Regions from separate parts of the Homo sapiens genome. Here region 2 is linked to region 1. Evidence: fine-mapped expression QTL. Tissue or cell type: whole blood. Region 1 holds a variant in brackets; the other region holds the start of a gene. All regions are shown on one strand. Distances are from middle to middle.

Region 1 (2,685 bases):
AAAAAAAAGAAAACTGCATCACATGAATGCACACATGAACACACATGCATGGACACGGCCAACTGTGTTCCTTATATTGGTACTTTTATTGCTACAGGACAGTCTCACAAACAGGACTTTCAAAAGAGCTGCAATAACCTTTCACACTTCTACCAGTCATACATTAATATGTGGGAAACAGTTATAGAATGTGCTATGTGGCTAAAATGTTTCATGAAGCAAAGTCCACAACATTTTAAGTATCAATAAGTTCAAGGGGATTTCTAATTTTGTGATATGTCTATACTGATTTATTTCATAAGGCTACATTTATGAGGTATATGTATAGGCATCATTGCAAGAATAAAGTTTACATTCAAGCTGATTTTAATTTACCTTTTTTTGAAACTTCTGCCCCATTAAGTTCTTTTTGTGCTTCTTCAATTTTGTCTAAGAAAAACAGAGAAAAATTTATAAATTAATTTACCTTAAACAAATAAGAGTACAGTAAAGCAAACATACTACTTTTAAACAGTGTCAGATACCTAGTAAAAAATGTGTTGAATAAATTATGATACAGATGTGTATAAACTGTTGAAGGATATATTCCCTTTTAAATTCATAATTTTAATCATTTCTTAGTCACAAGGACTATTTCCAATTAATAAATGTTTCCATAATGCAAATAATTAGTACACTTTAGATACTGAACTACAGCTTTAAAAGTCTAGTCATCTAATCAAAGTATCTAAAAATAATACTATCTTTACATACAAAGTACCTAATAGGGATTTTAGAGATATAACAAATGCTTACTAGCTTAGAAACAACCAGATTAAGCAAAGCTAAGACTTAAGACAGAAGACAGAAAAGGATGGAAAAACAGAGACGAGGATGAGCTGAAATATGGCATGGCAGAAAGTGTCTATATCCCTTGCTGGCAGCATAGAGCTGACAGCATCTATGAAGTATGAGGACAGAGTACTGCATTCAAGAGGTACTATACACAACTCACTGCAGAACTGCTACACATGTGCACAGTTTTGTCAGACAGATGTAACCCAGGAGCAATAACTAAGAGAATTGGGAGCAGTGCCTTGCTCCTGCTGTTCTTTGACCTGGGGCTCTGGGCACAACTGGATTTTGTAAATATGTGCATGCTCTATTTCAATAATAATTAATTTAAACTTTATAAGGATATACATACTTCATGACATGGGCAGTAATCGATTCCAAATTTAACACACT[G/C]GTCTAGGTACTTATTAAAATGGCAAAAGGAACAAATTCCCAGGGTACTATTTTGTACTGAACTGAAGACAATATTGATAATTATATAACATTCTACATATCCCAAATGTGTAAGTACAATTTAAATAAACGCATCAGCTCAGAAGTTGTCTCCAATGCTGACCCTACCGCTGCTCACTGGCCATGGAAGATGTAACCTCCAATATGGTATCCTACTCCAAATAAATAAAAGGCAGACACCGCACACCATGGGCCCTTCAAACTCTGATCTACCTGCCTCTCTCCCTATCTTGCCAGAAAGGCCAAGAAATTCAGAGAACCTTCTATTTACAGATCAAACGTCTTTCAATTGCATATTGATCCAACTTGCCAAGGCAAAGTGGGAGAACAGAACAAAGGAAGCAAGCTAGTTTGAAATATAGGACATTACATCTCAACAATAGTCAAAAATAACTAAATTTTCATCCTGATAAATGTATCGCCCACAGCAATGTCTTATTTGCTTCCTGCGAATTATCAGATCCAGAATATAATTTGAGAGTAGTACAGGCAATCTTTGGAATAAGACAATTTTTCTTATTTATAAACTTTAGTTACTGCTCATGAAACGATGAGTGAAGTTGAAATAGTCCTGGAAAAAAACACACATTAAATGCAGAAACTGGATCCTGTGCTCAGTGGTAGTTTTGCTTCAGACAGAAAAATATGGAATGCTTGCATGAAATCCGTATTAACACAGTGTAAGTAACAAAAGGCTAAGACCCACTTTTAAAAAACGAAATACATGAATTACCTGCAGATTTTCAAACTATAAATAATAAACAAATCACATAACATATAGTACTTGAAAAACATGTAAAAGGACTTTTATTACCAAAGCACTATTATTTCTATGCCAGTAATTCACCCAAACTTAAGAATCATAAATAATATATATGTATTATATATTCACAGTAGTAACAACTGTGCTTAATAGTTTATGTGCACATAATTTTGCATTATATAATCAAAACAACTTTTCTTAATAGAATCAGTTGTGGCTTAAAGCAACAAGAACTCATGATTAACAAATACTTACAGAATAGCTGTTGTTAAGTAATTGAAGTTTGGCCACTTTCTGTTTGCACTTCAACATAACAAAACTCTTACAAAAATAACTTGTTTATATCTGCTTACAAAATACTAGTCTCTGCTTTTAAAATTTTCAACTAAGTTACCTTTTTATCTTGATAATAACAGTATATAAATTTAGACTACTGATTTAGGACAGCTACTACAATAAATATAATAAGTACCTCCTCAAATGCTTCTACCTATAGCTCCACGTCAATAGGTAAACAATCTCCAATTAGCTTGTAACAGCCATTATAAAAGCTTTTGCTTTGGGCAAGTTTTATTACAATTCCTGTTTATATTTAGTGTGTTTTTATAATTCTCCTGGTAAATATGATGTGTTTT
Region 2 (2,685 bases), 200 kb before region 1:
GTGAATAAAGCTGAAAAGAGAGCTCACACTGTTTTGGGTGCCAAAAACCTGCCAAAAGAAACCTAAAGTCAATGATGACAAATTTTAAAGAAAACATCTGCTTCACCCAGAAACCGCCTGCGGGGGGTGGTGGCGGGGGGGGGGGGAGGCGGTAGTTAGTCAACAGACTTTTGCTCTGCAGGTGATTTTACTGAACATACATTGCTTGAACGACTGGATACAATTCCTTGGCTTCAAGCTGGAATGCTTAAATATTTTACACGTTAACACACTATTAAAATAGTGTTTAAATAAGATTTAAGTTCCTATATGGCCTGTGTACCTGTATAAACACATATATTACAAACATACATTTGACTAAATTGTATATGTCCATACTCTTCTCATTTTTTAAAAGCCAAGGAAACACATAATGGAATAATAATAATAAAACGATAAGTTATTTTAATGTCATGTTATAGTCAATTGCACCTAATTGTATTCAATAGAGGAATTTTACATTTTACACTAGAAGACTTAAAGTAGCTTTCAGCAATAATTCTCAGACACTTGCTCTCTAAGCTGCAGTCATAAAAAGAACGGGGAAAAATAGAAGCAAGAAAAGCATGAAGGTGGATAAGAACACACTAACTTGTAATTCCGAGACTTACAAGTCAACGAGCGTGCCTACCTGTTTCTGGAGCTCCTTGGCAAGCCACAAACAGCAGAGAGAAAATCATGAGCAAATAATCCATTCTGAAAAAAAGGGATCAAAAACCTCCCGTTCAAACTGAACCCAAAGGAAAACGAAGAAAAACAGCTTCAGGTCCCTCAAAGCGCTGCGGGTTCCTCAGATCTCAAAGCGATCCTTCAGCCCAAGTGCCCTTTTAACGGGGAGAAAAGGCAGCGCCTGCCAGGAGAGAAGGCAGCGAGCGGAGCGTCTGCAGGCGCACGCGGCGGTGGAGAGCTGGGACTGCAGGAGGCGCAGGACCCGTTCGCCTGGCGCAGATGCAGAGGCGCGTCTGACTTGGACAGCTCTCTGCCGGCTTTTTATATTGAACCCCTATTAGAGTGGGGGTAAACAGCTCCGACTTTATTCCAGCCCCAGACAATGTTATTGTGTTATTAGTCACCAACAGGCAACGTGCAGCCGGAGATAAGGCCAGGCCCGAAAGGAAATCACTGCTAACTTCAGAGGCAGACGCCCGCCGTCTGACAATTCGGGGGCAGGGCTAAGAAAAAGAAAATACCCATTAGAGACCTTTGCTAAACCTGCCCGTGCAGTGCTGGAGTCCGCTTCCCCTTTGCAAGCTGCCAGCCCCGGAGTTCAAGAATCAGAAGAGGGGACTCCAGAAAAAAAGTCATACCATTGGTATGAAAAGTATGAGCCACAGTTTAAATAGATTGTATTGTTGTGTGCGGGGAATTTTTTTTAATTGTTGCTCGCTTCATTTTCCTTTTATGTCTCTCCGATTCTAGTCTCAGTCAAACAAGGGAATGCTCTCCCTCGTCACTGCCCCACTACTGGGGGTCAGACTATTTTGGCAGATCAACGTACTTTTCTCTTCAAGCCCCTTCCTGCGGGTCTTTTTTGCTGAAGTTCTTTGCATCTATCGGAGAAAGATCCGTGAGGGATTGGCAAGAAAGGGAGCTTAAAAATAACATCAGAGCTCGTTTAGGCACATGCCCAGTCTTTTCCCTATCACTGATGAGAAGCCCCGATAAGTTCTTTTGTGTGTCCACACTTCCCCTGCGGAGGAGGCTGATAAACTGATTGAAAAGCAAAGGTGTTTTTCACACAGAACTTAAATCTTAAGATTGGTCGGTGCCACCAATCTTAAGACATGGCGGGAGAAGAACACCAGGGGGAGATGAAGAGCTACAGGGGCTGATGTTTTACTAGGACAAAAAGGAAAACCCTTCTAAATGGCAGAAAAAAACGCAACCTGGCTTGGGGGCCGAGGAGGGTCAAGGAATGTTGCCTAACATAGGAAGGAGGAATGCACCTCAGAATATTCTATTTATTCCCCGCACAAGCAGGGACATATTTTCTGGGACTCTTTTTTTTGGGGGGGTGTCTTCATTTAGGGCAAAAAGGTGTTCTTGTACAAGGTTAAGTGAATATGCAAGGAAGGTGGTGCTGAGAAGGAAATGCCATTCGAACAAGGAATCAGATAATACTTCACATTTAATAATGTGTTTACATTTTCAAAACAATTTCCTGTCTATCTAACCTTGAAATCCCCCCCTGAAGTACACACAGGGCAGTTACTGTACAGGTGACATCATGCCTTAATAAAGAAAGCAAAAGGTGCATGGAACACATTGGCTTTTTCCGCTAGTCCCATTTTTCAGGTTAGACAACTGAGCACCCAGAATTTTTGTTTGTTCTCCACCAAAGCGCTCACAGTGGCCCAGTAAGACCTATGGGATAAATTTAGAGTCTCTTCCCAGGGGATGCCATCAAATACACACTTTGTCCATCTCCTCTTTTTGTTTTACTCCAGTTTTTCTGGGGATGGAGGGTGGAATTCAAGCACGGATGAATTTCCAAGACTGGCACAACACACATGCTGGGAAACCTTTTTTCCCTCCTCCTTCTAAAATCAAAAGGACAGTTTTTATCCCAACAGCAAAGCCGTGGGTTTGGACAGACTCAGATCCCCAGACCTCCCTCGAAGTCACAGCTGGGGGAACAGGGACAGT

The links. PIP is the estimated chance that this variant, and not a neighbour inherited with it, causes the effect.
Region 2: it holds the start of EDN1, and the variant in region 1 is fine-mapped to the expression of EDN1 in whole blood (TOPMed, PIP above 0.99).

Annotation. Positions count from the first base shown.
Region 1 is chr6:12,086,928-12,089,612 of GRCh38, reverse strand. HIVEP1 (HIVEP zinc finger 1) reads right to left here. Exons shown (of 9, transcript NM_002114.4): 3 at 376-429. Among named protein-coding and RNA genes, the nearest start is that of HIVEP1, 76 kb to the right of the region's middle. The variant G/C (reference allele first, on the strand shown) is at 1,228.
Region 2 is chr6:12,288,679-12,291,363 of GRCh38, reverse strand. It overlaps EDN1 (endothelin 1), which reads right to left and starts at 1,003. Exons shown (of 5, transcript NM_001955.5): 1 at 671-1,003. The coding sequence starts at 734. RefSeq lists enhancers at 1,071-1,140, 1,151-1,250, 2,394-2,685.